2 linked regions of the Homo sapiens genome follow. The protein of the gene in region 1 purifies or fractionates together with the protein of each later gene. This does not show direct contact. Each region holds a gene or a part of one and is shown on either strand. Other genes may lie near its edges.

The links.
Region 2: the proteins of ANKRD13A (region 1) and STMN2 purify together in Homo sapiens (co-immunoprecipitation; 2 studies listed by BioGRID and IntAct, with this or other methods). This does not show direct contact.

Annotation. Positions count from the first base shown.
Region 1 is NC_000012.12:110,029,415-110,039,431, forward strand, and holds part of ANKRD13A (ankyrin repeat domain-containing protein 13A), read left to right. Parts: intron 1-63; coding exon 64-221; intron 222-1,230; coding exon 1,231-1,344; intron 1,345-3,032; exon of another isoform or gene 3,033-3,296; intron 3,297-4,382; coding exon 4,383-4,543; intron 4,544-6,846; coding exon 6,847-6,914; intron 6,915-7,944; coding exon 7,945-8,140; 3' UTR 8,141-10,017. UniProt on the Homo sapiens protein: Ubiquitin-binding protein that specifically recognizes and binds 'Lys-63'-linked ubiquitin. Does not bind 'Lys-48'-linked ubiquitin.
Region 2 is NC_000008.11:79,633,177-79,643,193, forward strand, and holds part of STMN2 (stathmin-2), read left to right. Parts: intron 1-83; exon of another isoform or gene 84-149; intron 150-1,896; exon of another isoform or gene 1,897-1,990; intron 1,991-3,625; coding exon 3,626-3,721; intron 3,722-4,904; exon of another isoform or gene 4,905-4,990; intron 4,991-8,201; coding exon 8,202-8,374; intron 8,375-10,017. UniProt on the Homo sapiens protein: Regulator of microtubule stability. When phosphorylated by MAPK8, stabilizes microtubules and consequently controls neurite length in cortical neurons.

The sequences.
Region 1 (10,017 bases):
CAATAATCTCCTTTTCCCATCTGGTGGAGATGACCTCAGTCTTTTCTTGGTTGAATTCTGCAGGTTTAAAGCAATGTTGTGGATGTGTGAAGAGTTTCCCCTCTCTCTGGTGGAGCAGGTCATTCCCATCATTGACCTAATGGCTCGAACGAGTGCTCATTTTGCAAGACTGAGAGATTTCATCAAATTGGAATTCCCACCTGGATTTCCTGTCAAAATAGGTACTGCTAAATAAACTTCAGCAACACTTGGAGGTTCTGCCCATGTTTGTGGGTGGCAGCATGTGGGTGGCAGGATGCTTCAGGGAATTGGAGTGCTTTAGGTCAAAGTAGCTTATAGACATAACAGAGGAGGTCAGAGTTCTCCTGTGGTTTGATTTAAAGAAGTGTTATGATTAGTGGTTCATTTTGTGTATCAAAGTCAAGAGATCTCCAACCATCATTTCTATTTGCAAATGGTGCTGACAGATATAAAAAGGCATAAAAACATGACACAGTCATTGTTTTAATGTCAAACCTTAATTCAGTGAGACTTCAAATTAGATAATTATTTGAGGAAGACAGTTGACACCAAGATCCTTTGATATGTAAATATGATCTACGTCCCAAGCTAGTATGCATAATGCTATATATGTATATATCATACATACTACTCATGAAGAGTATTAATTTTGGATAGTTGTATGTTCATGATACTTGAACCCTGGCTTGATCACTTACTCACTGTGATCTAGGAGAAAATACATAACTCATTTTCTCTTTTTTTTTTTTGAGATGGAGTCTCGCTCTGTTGCCCAGGCTGGAATGAAGTGGCATGATCTTGGCTCACTGCAACCTCTGCCTCCTGGGTTCAAGCGATTTTCCTGCCTCAGCCTCCTAAGTAGCTGGGATTATAGGCATGCATCACCACGCCCAGCTAATTTTTGTATTTTTAGTAGAGATGGGGTTTTATCATGTTGGTTAGGCTGGTCTCGAACTCCTGACCTCAGGTGATCAGCTCGCCTTGGCCTCCCAAAGTGCTGGGATTACAGGTGTAAGCCACCGCGCCTGACCGAAAATACACAACTCTCAATCTCAGTTTTCCCGTCTGTGTATTGGGAAGGGTTGTTATGAGGCTTAAATAAAATTATACTTATCAAAGTACTTGGCATAGTAAGCACTTAGTAAATGATAACTATTATTGTTATTCTCAGTAAAGTTTACTTATAAAAGTTTTTATTTTGTTTGTTAGAAATTCCCTTGTTTCATGTCTTAAATGCACGGATTACATTTGGAAATGTTAATGGCTGTAGCACTGCCGAAGAATCTGTATCTCAAAATGTGGAAGGGACCCAGGCTGATTCAGGTAAAAAAATAAATAAATACAAAGTTTAGTTTTGTTATTTAAAAAAAAATTTATGGCCGGACGTGGTGGCTTATGCCTGTAATCCCAGCACTTTGGGAGGCCGAGGTGGGTGGATCACCTGAGGTCGGGAGTTTGAGACCAGCCTGACCAACATGGAGAAACCCTGTCTCTACTAATAATACAAAAATTAGCCGGGTGTGGTGGCGCATGCCTGTAATCCCAGCTACTCGAGAGGCTGAGGCAGGAGAATCGCTTGAACTGGGGGAGAGGCGGGGGGATGGAGGTTGCTGTGAGCCGAGATTGTACCATTGCACTCCAGCCTGGGCAACAAGAGCAAAACTACATCTCAAAAAAAAAAAATTATAATTCAGTCATCATATTCATAATTCACTCTGAAGCTGGAATATCTGAGGGAGTAGATGTCTGTGTTGGATGAAAGAAAATTTCAGATTTAGTTTAGATTAAGCAAAAAAAAACTTGTAGAATATATATGATCCTAGTTATATTAAAAAGAAAGGATGTTCTTAAAAATCAGCTTTATTGAGGTGTAATGTACATACAATAAAATGCTCTCATTTTAAGTGTGATGGTTCAGTGCATTTTTTTTTTTTTTCTCAGAGTCTCACTCTGTCACCTAGGCTGGCATGCAGTGGCACAATCTCTGCTCACTGCAGCCTCTGCCTCCCAGGCTCAAGCGATTTTCTTGCCTAGTCTCCCAAGTAGCTGGGAATACAGGTGCGTGCCACCATGCCTGGCTGATTTTTGTATTTTTATTAGAGACTGGGTTTCACCATGTTGGCTAGGCTGGTCTGGAACTCCTGACCTCAAGTGATCCACCCAGCTCGGCCTCCCAAAGTGCTAGTGTGAGCCACCATACCCAGCCACATTTTGACAAATGTATGCATCTGTGTAACCACCACCATAGTCAAGGTAGACAGCATTTCCATATGCCCCCAAATTTCCTTACACTCCTTTGCCATCAATACAATTCATGATTTTAGATGCAATTGTAAATGGACTTATTTTCTTAATTTCATTTCCAGTTACTAGTATATAGAAATATAATTGAGTTTTGTATTTTGACCTTGAATCGTTTTTAAAAATTTTTTATCTTTTTTTTTTCTTACACAATTGCATGGCCAGGATTGACCTTGTTTATCTTGTAACATGGCTGAATTTACTTGTCTTACACTTTTTTGTAGATTTCTTAGAATTTCTTACATATATGGTCATGTTGTCTATTAATAAAGAAAATTTTACTTTTTCCTTTCTAATCTTTAAGCTTTTCATTTCTTTTTCTTGACTTACTGGACTGGCTAGGACATCTAGTACAATGTTGAGTAAGAGTGGTAGGAATGGCTGTCCTTGTCTTGTTCCTGGTTCTAGGGGAGGAAGGATTGTTGTGCCATTAGGTATGATGTTAGCTGTGTAGGTTTTTTATAAATGTCCCTTATTAGTTGGAGGACATTATTCTCTTATATTTCTAGTTTGCTGAGAGTTATTACCATTTTTAAGTATTGATTTTTGTGAGATGTGTTTTCTGCAACTATCATGATGGTCCTATGTTTCTCCCCTGTAGTCTACCAGTAGGAGGAATTAAAAGATAGCATTTTAATGTATATAAATTAAGACTTCAAATAAAAACAATTGAACTCGACAATAATATACACCTTTACATTCCCATGTAGCAACAAAGTTGGGTGAGATGTGTTCATGAGGTTGTGCAGCTAAGGAACACTCGTGCACTCTTGGCTGGAAGAGGAGATTGGTATAGTTCCTTGAATAAAACATTCGGCATTACTGTATAAACTGAAGATGTGGATGACCTAGCAATTCCTAGATGTGTACCCTAAAGAAAGTTATGCACATGAGCATCTGGAGACCCCAGTACTGGGCAGCAGCATCCATTCATAACAGCAGAAACCTGGAAACGACCCAAATGTCCCGAGATGGTAGAATGCGCTATTGTGCTCTATTAATACAACAGAATAACATATAGTATTGAAAATAAAAATTTATAGCTATGTGCGTCAAAACTGTTGAATTTCAAAAGCATAATGTTGAATGAAGAAAATCCAATTTGAAGAATAAATTCCGCATGATTCCATTTATGTCGAGTTCACAAACAGGCTAATACAAACTATTAGGATGATATACATGTGGCAAGCTCCAGAGAAGAGCTAGGCAGTGTAAACAACTATTCTGAATTATGTATTTACCTCTGGAGAGGAAGAAGGGAATATTGTTAACAAGGGATGTGCCCGCAGTATGGTATTGATAGTGTTTTTTTCTTTTTCTTTTTTTTTTTTTTTTTTGAGACAGTCTTACTCTGTCACCCAGGCTGGAGTGCAGTGGTGCGATCTTGGCTCACTGCAAGCTCCGCCTCCCGGGTTCATGCCATTCTCCTGCCTCAGCCTCCCGAGTAGCTGGGACTACAGGTGCCCGCCACCACGCCCGGCTAATTTTTTTTTTTTTTTGTATTTTTAGTAGAGACGGGGTTTCACCATGTTAGCCAAGATGGTCTCGATCTCCTGACCTTGTGATCTGCCTGCCTCAGCCTCCCAAAGTGCTGGGACTACAGGCGTGAGCCACCGCGCCCGGCAGTTATTGATAGTGTTCTGTGTCTTAGGCTAGGTGAAGGGCACACAGGCATTTGTTTAATTATTATCATTTTTAAGTGTTCAGATATTTTATATATACTTTTATATATTTACCATATATCTTCCTGCAAAAGGAAGAAACACATTGGTGTGACTGTGCGTATATGTTTAGGGGGAGAAATCTGCGCTTTTCATTTTATAGTCTTGTGTATTTTTTTATGACTGTGTTCGTTGTTTCCACTAAAATCAAGGAAAAAGAAAAAAGCTGTATTCTGTCACTTTTTTCTGTCATGCTTCCTCAGAATCTCTCATATAATAGTAAGCCTTGATTGTTATAATTTTGAGCCTTTCTTTTTTTTCTAATGTACAACATTTTTGCAAAAAGTTGGAGTGGAAATGTAATGAACTCAGACACTGGACGGTTGCCTTTTGTTTCAGCTTCCCACATCACAAACTTTGAGGTTGATCAATCTGTGTTTGAAATTCCCGAATCTTACTATGTTCAAGACAATGGCAGAAATGTGCATTTGCAAGATGAAGATTACGAGATAATGCAGTTTGCCATCCAGCAAAGTCTGCTGGAGTCCAGCAGGAGCCAGGTGTGTTTATCAGAATACTCTAATGGCAGGGCGTGGGAGGTCTTACCCTCTGGGTTAGCCTCAGTGTTTGGCTAATCTGAAAGATTTATTCTAAATATCAAGTTTGACACATTCATGGTATTTGCATAGGTTATACTTTGTGCATCTGGTCTTCTTACAAAAGCTTGTTATGTAAGAGACCATCTACATAATCCCAGTCAGCACCATTCACAAGATGTCTTCAGGCAGACTTTCCTTTTCCTCATATTCACGCACATAGCTTGTAATTCTGTACTTTTTGAGATGTGCTTCATCATTTTCTAGCACTGAAGCAGTATCATATTTTTCCTGAAGGATTACCTGTGTGTCAGTAGTCTCGGATGAAGGTAGTGAAGTGGATTTGAATCCCACTTCCTCCACAAAGGGTACCATCTCCCTAAACTCTCTCTGGGTCTCTAGTGAAACAGAAAATGAAGGACAGGACAGACCTGTGTAAGCAGTAGGCTTTGTGTGTGTGTGTGTGACTCTATGTTGCCCAAGTCGGAGTGCAGTGGCTGTTCCCCGGCATGATCATATTGCACCCTCAAACTCCTGGGTTCAAGAGATCCTCCCACCTCAGCCTCCCAAGTAGCTGGGACTAAAGTCATGCACCACTGTGCCCAGTAGAACAGTTGCCTTTTATTGTCATATCTGGTTCTCCCTCCATGCCTCACCTACCTGGGACAGTCCAAGGCTTGAGGTCCTCCTCCCCTAACATCAACTCCTTCCATCTCCTTCCTTCTGTGCCTCCTGGCTCTACTAGGGTAGGGTCTGGTCTGCCTCCAGCACCCTCTGGTGTGTCCTGGGTTCCTGCAGTCCATTTATTTGTTAATTGGCTTTTTCTTCCATTCTTCATTCAGATATTTGCAGAGTACCTTCTTTGTGCCAGGCTCTGTGCCAGGTGCTGGGAATTCTCTGGGAAGCAGCCCCTGCCCTCACAGGGCTGCTGCTTTGAGAACAGTGCTCACACTCCAGCGTCCTCACTGGTTCAAGCTTATAGCTTTCTGGTTCTATTCCTGAGTCTTAGTGCTTGTGTAATGTGAGTCTACCTCCTCCACTTCCCCCTGCCACCACCATGGCCCCATTCCCAGACCCATTCAGTTTTCCGAGCCAGACCCCAAAGCAAGCATGTTCCCTTTGGGAGGCATCCTGGGAGAAGACCCCTGCACATCACCATCAGCCTGGTATGCTTTTCCTTTCCCTATGTAAGTGAGCTTAGCTCCCCCCGCCAGCTCCCAAGTAGCTTCATAAACCTTGTTGACCATAAGTTTTAACAAGGGAAGTAGCCAAAGTCAAAGACTACCAGTATTGAATTGTGTCTTCTAATCTTGCCCTAGAAGAATTACTGGCTGGGTGCAGTGGCTCATGCCTATAATCCCAGCACTTTGGGAAGCCAAGATGGGAGGACTGATTGAGCCCAGGAGTCTGAGACCAGCCTGGGCAACATAGTGAGATCCTATATCTACCAAATTTTTTTTTTTTTTTAATTTTTGAGGCAGAGTCTCACTCTTTTGCTCAGGCTGCAGTGCAGGGGCACAATATTGGCTCACTGCAGCCTCTGCCTCCCAGGTTCAAGTGATTCTCATGCCTCACCCTCCCGAGTAGCTGGGATTACAGGTGCGCACCACCAGACCCAGCTAGTTTTTGTGTTTTTAGTAGAGACGGGGTTTTACCATGTTGTCCAGGCTGATCCCAAACTCCAGACCTCAAGTGATCCACCAGCCTTGCCCTCCCAAAGTGCTGGGATTAGAGGTGTGAGCCACCATGCCTAGCCTCTACCAAAAAATTTTAAAAGCCAAGTATGGTGGTGTGCACCTGTATTCCCAACTAGTCAGGAGGCTTAGGTGGGAGGATTTCTTGTGCCCTGGGGTCAAGGCTGCAGTGAGCTACGATCACATCACTACCCTTGAGCCTGGACAACAGAGTGCGACCCTGTCTCTAAAAAAACAAAAACCTGCTTTGGTCACTTGAACTTTGCCCAAGGTCAGCTGTGTTTTTGCTTTTCGTTGTGTATATCTTCCACGTGGGTTAGCTGTATTTAAGAGACTGATTTTGTACAAAGGATGAGAAGGTTGTGGCTGTGAGTTAGGCTGTGGCATGTTACTACCTCCCACTTAGGTGTTGTTTTTGAGGTAACCCAAGTCCCTGTTAGCTTTTCACACAGCACTATTGATAATGGTCATGGAAAGACTTTTAATTTGGTTCTTGCTGCCATCGTTTCCTTACCAGAATGGCACCAATTTCTCCTAAGACGTATTCATGTCTATCACATTTGTCTTTGCCAGGAACTTTCAGGACCAGCTTCGAATGGAGGGATCAGCCAGACAAACACCTATGACGCCCAGTATGAGAGGTGATTGACTGACGTGACTCTGGAATAAACCAGGGTGAACACAGGCCTGGACACAGGCGAGCAGACGCGTGGCACTGTGCATTTGGTCCTCAGGCAGATGTACGGTGCCACAAACTGGCAGGAAAGACTAGAAAAAGTAGGCCAGGAGCGGTGGCTCACGCCTATAATCCCAGCATTTTGGGAGGCCGAGGCAGGCGGATCACGAGGTCAGAAGATTGAGACCATCCTGGCTAACACGGTGAAACCCTGTCTCTCCTAAAAAAAATACAAAAAATTAGCCGGGCATGGTGCCAGGCACCTGTAGTCTCAGCTACTCGGGAGGCTGAGGCAGGAGAATGGCAAACCCAGGAGGCGGAGCTTGCAGTGAGCCGAGATCGCGCCACTGCACTCCAGCCTGGGCGATAGAGCGAGACTCCGTCTCAAAAAAAAAAAAGACTAAAGTGTTGGCTCTCTTGCTTCCTCTTGTGGCAGTTACTTATAATAACTCTAGACTCTTGATAGCAAGTTTCCAGGAATGGGTGATAGAATTGCTGACTGGTTCACAGGTCAGTGCCATTGGGGGAAACGTACTGAGTCAGTTTTTTCTGATTGGTTTGATCTTCTATGAATGATGTATGATCACAGGGCCTAGATGTCCTCAGTGGGAAGTTTATATAATTGTAAAGATAAGGAAGTTTGGAGGAACAGCTCCAGAGATTACGGGAAAAACCGCGAGGATTCATTTTACGAAGACTTATACTTAAGGTGTCTATGAGAGCCTGTTGATGAAGAACCTGAGTTTTGCTTTAAAACAGATCCAAGTTCAATTCCCAGCCCTATCACTTACTGGTTGGGTGGTCTTGGGCAAGATTGTGGGGTTTCTCACCCGTATACAACACCTACACCGCCAGTTATGTGGGATTAATTGGCATCATGCATATTAAATGCCTGGCACAGTGTGCCCTTGGTAAGCGGTTAAGAAATGTAGTTACTGCTGCCACCATGATGATGATAGTAGTGACTCTCCCTTTTTATCTGTTTTCCAACCCAGGGCCATCCAGGAGAGCCTCCTCACCAGCACAGAAGGCCTGTGCCCCAGCGCCCTGAGCGAGACAAGCCGTTTTGATAATGACTTGCAGCTAGCCATGGAGCTCTCTGCCAAAGAGCTGGAGGAATGGGAGCTCCGGCTCCAGGAGGAAGAGGCTGAGCTCCAGCAAGTCTTACAGCTGTCACTCACTGACAAATAGACCTTTCAGCCTGTGAGCCTCTGCACAAAGCAGAGGCTGTGGGCTGTCACAGATGCTGTGTCAACCAGGGCCCTAGGGCTAAGGGCCTGCACCTTGCGTGCATGCAGCAGGCAACAACTGCCCCTTCTTTATGCAGAGGTGCAGAACCAGGGACTCCTGGGCCCATCCAGGCTGCTCCCTGGGGTGGAGAAGGGACCAGGGATTGCAGGCCCCATCTCCAGGCTAAGGGGAGGAGAGCATCATCACTTTCCATTAGCTGTATTGGCTTGCAGGTCACATTTTTACTACCAGCTTTAGACAAAACCCCAATCCCCGCAGGTTTGTAGATAAATTTTTATCAAGGAGTGATAACAAGACAAGTTATTGCAGAGTCAGGGTGCTTTTATATATAAGAGCAGCAGCCGCCTTTGTAAAGTGTGATCTATGAGAATTGGAGACACTTCTTTACTGTTCACCAAAGAAATGGGTAATCTGTGCTGATCTCCTTATTTTTACCTTTTTACAGGGTTTCTAGGACATTGTCATTATTCTTCCTCCATCTATCTGATTCCATTCCTTCCACACCCAGCTAAAGTTAGAGGAGATACATATAGAATCTATTTTAGATTATTGTTAACTATTTGCATCAAATTAAGATACACAAATGGCCATGGATGTTGCCTTAGCCTTAAACATTACTAATAGTTTCACATCACCTCACTGCACGCATCGAAGGATCTGATTTGAATTTGTAAAGGCAATTCTTTTGAGAGCAGGATTCTCCAGGCTAAATCAAAGGCAGCTAATCCTGTCCCTGAAGGAGCAGCTAGGGGAACCTGAGGCTTGTTCTTGAAGTGGGCAAGCTGGCCAAAATATTGGAACACACAGAACCAAACCAGGTGTGTTCTACACCTGCATGAGTGAAGGATTTCCACGTAGACACCTAGGAAGAGCCCGCATGCCCTAGACTCACTCCAGAGGAAGGATTGATTTGCAACCAGAAAGGGAGCTGAAAACCACGGAGCTCCATGGCTCTTCATTCAAAAGGGAAAATAATGATTCCACGTTGCTTTTTAGAGTTCAAATCAACATCTTTCTGGATAAATCTATTTTTTAACAATCTTTTTATTATTTGTAAAAGATATAAAAACAACTCCCATCAGTAGCAATACAAGGTTATACATTTTAACCAGATTTTCTCAGGCCTTTTTTGGATACCTTTAGTAGTTAACTCTCTTTTGTCAAACCCTCTTGTATATAACCATCGCACAACATACAGAACCCTGGGGAATACAGCCAAGGGCACTGCTCACTGTGGCCCGTGTATTCATTCCCACAGGCTGCACTGAAATAACCTGGTAAACAACACCCTCCTCCATTTTGCGTCTATTTCTTCTATTGTGCTTCTTTGGGGATAGGAAGAGAAACATAACTACTGTTCCAGGTAACGTCTGTATCATACAGTTAGTGTTGCCAGTGAAACGTTCCCAGATACAAAGAATTGTGCTTTTAATTCCATTTCACAATCTGTTTTGTTTTTTTTTTTTGTCATTGTCTGACCAAAATTCCTTCTGCACATGAGGCCAGTATAGGCAACGTCACATTTGTTTGTTTCAAATATGCAGTGTGGTATTTTGTTTACTTTGCATTTACCGTGAGCAAAGATACTTCTTGGAATGGCTGCAGTGAGGCCGTGTCATTGGCTCACAAAAGTGACTCATAGGTAATTTCTGTGTTTGCATTCCACTGCTCTGCTCCCTAAGGTCCTTGACTTTCTCCCCAGGAATTCACTTAAAAAGGGACTGAGCATTGTGTCAACCTGTTGCAGTGTTTTTCATATATGTGTTCACTCTAAAAATGCAAATAAAGACTGCTTCCTTAGAGGGTGCTCATACAAA
Region 2 (10,017 bases), on another chromosome or scaffold:
GTGCCTTTGCTGCAGGGAAGGAATTAGGATTTGCTTGGACTGTGGTTGCAGCTGGCTTTTAAGGATCTCCTTAGAATGCAAGCAACTCATCAATGAGAATCTCTGCAATGGTTGTCACTGGGTAGAGTCATGCTATGTGGGGTCATAGCCTTTGAAACAAATAACAGTAAAGATAAAAATGCTATTAAAGGAATCACCACCCACAGAGGTTAACTGGGTTTTGTCCCCAGACCACCTCGAACAAGAAAGAACATTTTTATCAGTCATTTTCTTAGTTTTAGCTGATAAAACAAAGTACCATAGACTAGGTGGCTTATAAACAACAGAAATTTATTTTTCACAGCTTTGGAAACTGGAAGTCTGAGATCAGGCCGCCAGAATGATCAGATTCTAGTTAGGGCCTACTTTGCTTTTGCAGACTGCCAACTTCTAGCTGCATTTTCATGTGGCAAAAGGAGATTGAGCTAGCTCTCTGGTCTCTTCTTATAAGGACACTAATCCCATTCATGAAGGCTTCACCTTCATCATCTAATTACTCTCCAAAGACCCCACCTCCAAATACTATCACATTGGGAATTAGATTTCAAATACAAATTTTGCGGGGACACAAATATTCAGTCCATAATAGTAATGATTACTCATTATACATAGGGCTCTAAATGTGCTAGCTTCTGATAGTTTTTACACTCACTTCTCTTTATTAGCTTGTCAAGCATAATTAGGGCAGTGGCCTTACTGAAAATTATTGAATTTAGTTTCCTAAGGACAGATATTGAGGAGTTTTTTCTTCACTAAAAATTCACGTTCCGATACAGCTTTCATCTGTTACTACTTTGTGAGATGGAAAATCTTTTATTTTATTTTTATGTTTGGATTGACCCTTCTTAATAAAGTCGGCATGTAATATGCTTCATGTGTTTCTAATATGTGCTTAATTTTGCAAAATGTTTTGCATACCAGAATGCATTTCTCTTCCAAAAAAGGTACCAGCCTACAAAACCTTGCTGTTACTGTTTTCAATTAGTTCATGGAATTAAATGTATTAAATGTTTTATGCTCTGGCAGAAATTATGATTCTCACTTAACTCCATATAAATCTGGATCTGCCTGGGCCTTTATAAGTGACACAATTTCATTAACTGAATAAACAAATGATACAAAGAAATTTGGTTTAGCCTTCTAAAATTCCAAAGGCGTTCAACAAAATATCTCAGAATGGATGTTCCAGGACTTTTATGGCACAGGACAACATGTATTGCTTATTTTAAGAAAATAAGCTAAATAGTGAGGGGATTCTTTTAGCAGATCCTCAGGATGTGTTAGGTTGAATCATAGGCAAATGATATTTGATCATTGCACCTGTTAACACATTGAACCTCATCCTAAAATTGTAGAGCTAGAAGAAAGCCTTCTGGCAGTTTTTAAATAGATTGATTTACTGCAATTTATCCAGAAGCTTCACCGTTGTCACTGGCTACATGTGACTTTGGCCTCTGTGGGGCTATATCCTCATTTGTAAAATTGGTGGTGAGGTAGGTGGACAGTTGACTAAATAATCTCTTAGAATAATTCTAGTATCTGTGGATCTAAAGCATCCAGGGGTTGAATATGTTTCTTTCTGGCCAAGAAAAGATGCACCTGTCAATAATGCCCAAACTCATCTTCTGAGAATCCTCTTTCCCAAGATACCCACTCTCCCTTGGGTTATATTATAGTAATGATCAGAAGCCCCTGCCAAGAAGAAACTGTTAACCTGGGAGGTCTATATTTTATTTCACAGCCATCTGTTTATACTTTCTCACAAGTTAGTGCACAGTATACCCATCATTTTCTACCATTTTCCTTAATTTATTAATTTTACTAATTGCATAATTAACAAAAGTAAGAAGATTTTACCTCCTTATCCCCATCTGGTAGTTTGCAGATACTTGGCCTGATGACAACTGACAGTGATGAGATACTCACCAAGTTTACCAGGGCAGGAGGCTTCCTAGAGAAAAAATGAGAAAATGAAATGGGGAAGGGGAGTGAAGGATTGAGGAGGTGACAATCTGGACTCTTGCAACTGCATGGCAAGGTTGGCACACAAGCTGGGTTGCAACGGAGGGAAGGAGATCCTTATCAGATGTAATCAGAGCTCAGATCGAGGGCTTTGGTGTGTGTAGAAAGAGGGAGAGACAAAGAACTTAAAACAGAGCTGCCATTTGACCTTGCAATCCCATTACTTGGTGTATACCCAAAGGAGAATAAATCATTCTATTAAAAAGACACATGTGCTTGTATGTTCATGGCAGCACTATTCACAATAGCTAAGACATGGAATCAAACTAGGTGTCCATCTATGGCAGATTGGATAAAGAAAATGGGGTAAATATAAAGCATGCAATACAACATGGCCATAAGAAAAAATGAAATCATGTCCTTTGCTGCAACATGGATGCAGTTGGGACCCATAATCCTAAGTGAATTAACACAGGAACAGAAAACCAAATACAGCATGTTCTCACTTATAAGTGGGAGCTAAACACTGAGCACACATGGACATAAATATGAGAACAATAAACACTGTGGACTACTAGAGGGGGGAAGGAGAGAGGTTTGTAAAACTACCTATCAGGTGCTATGCTCAATACCTGGGTGATGGGATTTACACCCCAAACATCAGCATCATTTAATATTCCCATGTAAAAAGACTGCACATATACCCCTTGTATCTAAAATAAAACTTGAAATTAAAAAAAAAAGAAAGAAAGAAAGAGGCTGGAAATAGAGGCTCACACCTGTAATCCCAGCACTTTGGGTGGCCAAGGTGGGTGGATTGCTTGAGCCCGGGAATTCAAGACCAGCCTGAGAAACCTGGTGAAACTCTGTCTGTACAAAAAATACAAAAATTATCCAGGCATGGTGGAGCGCACCTGTAGTCCCAGCTAATGGGGAGGCTGAGGGGGGAACATCACTTGAGCCCAGGAGGTGGAGGTTGCAGTGAGCTGGGATCACACCACTGCACTACAGCCTGGGTAACAGAGCAACTCTGTCTCAAAGAGAGAGAGGAAAGAAAAAAGAAAAGATGGACAGATAAGAAAATGCACTTGGAGATTAAGAGAAAGCAGCAACATAGGACCCTGGATAATGTGTTTGCTTAATAACTATCCTGATGAGTTATCTGACTATTCCCAAATGAGTACGTGGCAATTCAGGCTGAACCATCAGAGTAGCCCTCCGGAATCTTACTTATGTACAATAGACCTGCATGCACATTTACTAGAATGAGCCTCTCTCTCTGGTAATCATGTCTGCTTCCACTAATTCCATCTGTTTCCTCTCTCTCCCTCCTATCCTGCTAGATCTTAATTCCTTCGACCTTCCTTTGTTTTTCTAACTCCCTTTCTTTCTCTTGTTATTTAACCTGCTATACTATGCAATTGATCTCCTCTGCACTAAGGAACATGCACTTCAGAATTCTGTTGACATCTTGCATTCCTTTATATTTAGTGAAAGAATGCAAAGGAGTCTACCTGGCAATATTCACTCTGCAGGAGGCAATAATTATTATTCAAATTAAAGGAAGCAGTAAAGAGAAATTCAGAAAAAATGAAATATACTAATCTTCAGCTTTTCATTTCAGCCTACAAGGAAAAAATGAAGGAGCTGTCCATGCTGTCACTGATCTGCTCTTGCTTTTACCCGGAACCTCGCAACATCAACATCTATACTTACGATGGTGAGTAACCTAGGATAGACATACCCCTGCTAGCTAGATCATTTGGAAAGGTTGACATATATTTGTTTCTTACAGCTCCTGATATAATTACATCAATATTTTGTAGCTCTCACTATTGACTTGCCGTGTCTAGCTATTATGTCCAATTGATTACCTATTGCTGAAAACAGTTTGAATTTGGTGCTAATAACAACACATCAATGTCTGTTAAGAAATGTGGATGGATTCTTATTAACAGCCACATCCAGCATATCAACATCCACAATATGTCTAAGGTCTTTCTTTGCAAATAATTTAATAGGCTAAGCCATAATTGGAGTAGATCATAATTTGTAAGAAAATGCTTTATACTTAGAAAACTCAAGAGAAAGAATCAACAACCATAATTGTTTTTGCTTTATTGTAGTCTTTATAAAGTTTCTATACTTTGTATATACATGTCAACCAGCTAATGATAATAATAATTGGCTCAATAAATAAAACTGACTTACGACTGAGGCCCTAGATAAAGAGGGTCTGAAAAGAAAAGCCTAAAGAATTAGCATGGCAATTAACATGATTGAGGTGCAACTCTTTAGGTTTGATTTATCCTGATTCATTTTGCTTACTTTGGCTCTGCCACAATCCACATGATCTTGGTCAAATAGATACTTGGATTCTCTAAGTCTCATTTAACTCTAGCATCTTCCTCTTGGAGTTGTTGTGAGGTTTAAACGGTTTAATGTAAGTCAAATATGCAAAACCAAGCCTAGCTCATTATATCACTCTACAATGATAGCTATCATTATCAACATCATCCTTACCTAATTCAGTCAATTTAACTAAAATATTTTATACAGTTCTATGTATCCTAGATATCCCTAAGGCATATTTTACTAACTCTCAGGCTCACAAATATTTTTCTTTTCCATATATGTAAAGAAAGACATTAATGACAAAACAAACTGACCTTGTGGCAGTTAACCCCTTCTGCACCTTTAAAGCCTATTCAAGGACTCAAAGGCATTTACCTTCCAAAGTTATTCTATCGTAGCACAAAAATCATAAATGCTAATTAACTGTTCCATAAGGAAATGTCCTCCATGTGAAAGGAATTCTGTCTCCAAACAAAACATTCATTAGAATGCAGGGCCAATGCCTACTTTGTACAAATTCATTCGGTCAGCAAATAAATTAGACAGACCTTTATTATTTGCTAGATGTAGCTGTGAAGAAGGATCCAGCTATGTTTCTTATGAGACTAATGTCGAACTATGGGTTGTCACTGAGGATCCAGAGTTCCATAGGGCGTAGTCCTCACCTTCAAAGAATTCAGGGCTTAGTAGAAGAGTCTTACACAAATGACTAGAATGTAGAACACAGAGTGGTTAGGACAAAGGAGCCAGGGATGGTTTTTGCTGGGTTAGGGAATGAAAAAAGGGGAAGAAAATATGTGAAGTTATGTGTGAGCTGATTCTTGAAATAAGCTGTTTTTATTTGCCTGCGTTCTCTTATAATCCTTTTCCATAGGCTTCCATAATTTTTATTGAGCTGTATTTAAAGTTGAATAGATAATTCAACATTTCTCGTAAACTGTGCTTCCTAAAAGAGTCCGTAGAGAATTTCAAATTTCTGCAGTCTTTAACTTGACCTGGTATTTCTATGTTAGATAATAACGTGACTTGTTTATTGCAGGCAAACATTATAACAATAAATTATTATTATTGTTTACATTTGTAAGCACTAAGTATATGGCTTGTGCTTTGCATTCAGCATCCTTTATCATTTAATCTTCACAACCACCTTAGAAGGAAGGTACTCTTTTTATTTCCATCTTTTAAATGAGGAAATAAAAGCATAAAGAAGTTAATTAACTTACCTAGTGTCACACAGCTATTAAGAGGGGCTTACTATTTGGATGCAAATATAGGCAGTTCTAATTCCAGAGCCTCTAATCTAAGGCATTTAAAACCCCATCACCTTATCAAATAAGCTGTTTTTATTTGCCCGTGTTCTCTTATAATCCTTATCCATAGGTTTCCATAATTTTTATAAAATTGTATTTAAAATTTAAGTATAATCTTGGATGCCATCAGGAAAATGAAAAACATTTTTACATTTGTGAAGGAAAAAGCCCACATCATTTCCAATATAGTTATTGAGTTAGTATTATCTAGACTATCTATTAGCAGCTAAGGATCTGAGGTCAAGGCCTGCCAGCCTGGCATTTTACTTGACCACAACCTCCATGTGCACTAACCAGGCTGCTAAAAGAACATTAACGGGAACATAACCTGCTGGCTTGGTTGCCACAATTTTAAAAAGACGTTAATAAATTAGAGAGCACTTAGAGGTTAGGAAATAATATGGTGGTAAAGATCTAGAAACAGTGTCATTCTGGGGCACTTGAAGATGTTTAGCCTGGGGGAACAACTTGAAATGGAACATAACTGTTTTCAAATACTTGAAAAATGGTGGTGCACCACAGAGAATGGCCTAATCATGGGTAGCTTCAGACTTCAAACAAGGATCAGTGGGCTAAAACCAGAGAGATGGAGTTTGGGACTCAAAGAATGCTCATCTGAAATTGAGGGCTGACCAGCGAGGTTCTTTTAAAAATCATTGCATTTTACTAAATTGTGAGTTCTGTAATTATAAATGTCCTAGCAGGTGCTAGCTGTCATCTTTTCTATTATAAATTATACTATTTTATGTTATAATTTGTATTATACAGGCTTAAAACATAAGGGTCTGATAATCTGCTTATCTTTAATACATAAGCCACTGATAGAAAATAAGTGGCTAACCATTCTTCAGTTCTTTTTTTAATTGACAAAAATTGTATATGTTTGCGGTGTATGGCATATTTTGAAATATGTATACATTAGAGAATGGCTAAGTGAAGCAAATTCACATATGCATTACCTCACACACCTGTCATTTATTTGTGATGAGAACAAAAAATCTACTCTTTCAGTGATTTTCAAGAATACAGTACATTGTTATTAACAATAGTCAGCATGGTGTACAATAAGTCTTCTGCGGCCGGGCGTGGTGGCTCACGCCTATAATCCCAGCACTTTGGGAGGCCAAGGCTGGCAGATCACGAGGTCAGGAGTTCGAGACCAGCCTGACCAACATGCTGAAACCTTGCCTCTACTAAAAATAGAAAAATTAGCTGAGTGTGGTGGTAAGCGCCTGTAGTCCCAGCTACTCAGGAGGCTGAGGCAGGAGAATTGCTTGAACCTGGGAGGCGGAGGTTGCAGTGAGTCGAGATAGTGCCACTGCACTCCAGCCTGGCAAAAGAGGGAAACTCCGTCTCAATAATAAGTCTCTTGCATTTGTTCTTCCTGTTTAACTGAAATTATGTATTCTTTGATCAACATCTCCCCAGTCTCCACCCCTAACCCCTGGTAACCACAATTCTACTCTGCTTCCGTGAGTTCAACTTTATGAATAGTCCACATGTAAGTGAGATCATGTGGTATTTGTCTTTCTGTGCCTAGCTTATTTCACTTAGCATAGTGTCCTCCAGGTTCACCCATGTTGTCAAAAATGACAGGATTTCCCCCAACTTTTTTAAGGCTGAACAGTATTCCATGTGTATGTGTATAAATTAGATTAGTAGATGTTGCCACTCCCTCCTCCACCACAGTGGCTCTATCCCTGGCTCCTGGCTCCAGCCGAGTACACTAGAGGAGGATATTCTAAACAGCAACAACACAGGAGCAAAGACATTACAATGGGGTGTTGTCTTATTGCCCCCATTAGACTGTAAGCATCTTGAAGACAAGGACCCCCATCACAGAGTGATGTTGTCATCCCTGGAGTGGGCACTGTGCATGATTGATGACTGGAAGCAATGAACATACAGAAGGGCAAAACAGAAATCAGCAGGATGCTTTGCATTTCAGCATTGACTTTGCCAAATATGCCCAACTGTTCAGGGAGTTACATTGGTTCTAACGAAGCTCCTGTGATTCCTAAGCACAGGAATGGTGATAATATATATAATGGTGCATGCATATATACGCATATCTAGATAATGATATCTCATTATATGTGAGAACTGAAGAACTCCGTTATGTTTCTCGTCTAACCAAAAAGGGCCTACAGCTACGATAATTTCCAAACAAATAAATCTGTGCTACTTGATTTTCATGCAAAGCTCATATTTGTTCAAAAGGAAAATAAAGCTTAATTTAAAATCAATTTAGGCTATTTTTATCTAAGTATGCTTACCGTTATTCAACTCCCTGCAGATATTGTCAAATTTCTCAATATGGTAAATATTTATTCTGTTAAAATATATCCATAGTTACACTAAAGACAGAGAGGTCTTATATGTTCTAAACAACATAGAGCAAATGCTCATAAACAGCATTTTATTCCTATCTCCCGGAATAACAACGCTACTTCCAATTGCTGGAATCTAAATTATTAAAATAAACCCATGCTGCAAGCTTTGTATGCTTAACATTCTCAAATGTTCACTTTTCAGATATGGAAGTGAAGCAAATCAACAAACGTGCCTCTGGCCAGGCTTTTGAGCTGATCTTGAAGCCACCATCTCCTATCTCAGAAGCCCCACGAACTTTAGCTTCTCCAAAGAAGAAAGACCTGTCCCTGGAGGAGATCCAGAAGAAACTGGAGGCTGCAGAGGAAAGAAGAAAGGTAACTTTTTCCATAGGTTTTCCTTCTCTCTCTCCCTCCCCTGCTCCTCCCTCTCACACACTCGGGCACACATGCACGCACACACACACACACACACACACACACACACACACACACACACATACAGAGAGCAATGACAGCTGAACCTGTGCCATGCCAACATGTATAGGTTTTCAGTAGACACAGAGCCAGGCTAGTTGGGGTAAAAACTGTAAGATAGATGCTAATTTTAGGCTAGCCAAACCAGAGCTCTCAGAAATCCAAAGAGCTTCAGTGCTCTAGTGCCCCTTCCCGTATATTGAATCCCCTTATTATAAAAGCCTCCCTTCCCTAGACCATCAGGCAGAAGCACTGTAGAGAAAACACAGCCCTGGCGAACTCCAGTGGTGGGGAGGGGAAGAAGTGCTGCTTCCTCCCTCTCAGGATCTGTGTCACCCCCTTTGTCAGGCGTGGTTTTCCTTGGAATTACAAATTACCAGATCTTCCCTCCAAGATCTTTCCTGCCCAGGGTAAGGGCCAAGAGCTTGCCCCTTTCCTCTTCAGAGTCCCACTGCCTGCCCTGGAAGTTGGTCCTTCCAAGATCAGGACCTTCTCTGAGTTCTTTGAATATGTTCTTTATCTTTTTCTAAGACTTGATGGGGATTTTTCTCTTTTTGCCATTGGTCCCTGCTTATATTAAAGAGCTTTCCTTTTGCCAAATCTTTACTTTTCCATAATCACATGGCTAAGAAGAGCCAAGGGTATTATTTGAGAACACTTAGAAATCCTAGGGACTGTGTACACAAACAGAAGTTGTTTGAATGTGTCTGTTCCAACCATGTGGTTATGGTAGTTAATCCCATCAAGGTACTCACGATCATCCAAAAATGGAATTCTTTTATGTAATTCATCCCCACATTGTATTTCCCAATATTTTTTATGATATAATTTTAGAATCAGGTAATCACTAAGAACATGTTCCCTGCACAGTTTTATGATGTTTTCTCTAAAAAGTCAGCCAAAACTTTGGACACTTCTATGTTGGATAATTAAAAACAGAATGAAGATAATCCTCCTCCTAAAGATTGAATTCTCCAAGAGAGAATGCAGGACAAACACAGATGTGCTGTGTATAGTATATGTGCATATATACATGCATATATGTACACAAATATGTGTATTATCAAATAATGAGGCTCAAACATTAGAAATCCTTAGATTAAATTTTCTAAACAAGAAAACACTAATCTTTGTAGTTGAAAAAAAATCCTCCTATGATATGTAATATGCTGATCTCAATTTTCACCTAAGAGTGATGTTCTCCAAATGTCCGATGAGCATGTCATATATATATATATGAATTTTTATATATATAATTACAATGGTAATTGGTATATAGAGATATCTATATTATAGATATATATAGCTATCTCTATATATTACATATACCAATTATAGATATAAATATAACAATGGTAACTGGTGTATATGTGATGTGTATATATGTATATGTATACCATAATTATATATTAATATTGTATATATGCCATAATTATATATTAATATTGGTATATATACACCATGATTATATATTAATATTGGTGTGTGTATGTGTGTGTGTATATATATATATATATATAAAATACTAGTTATCATTGTTCTAG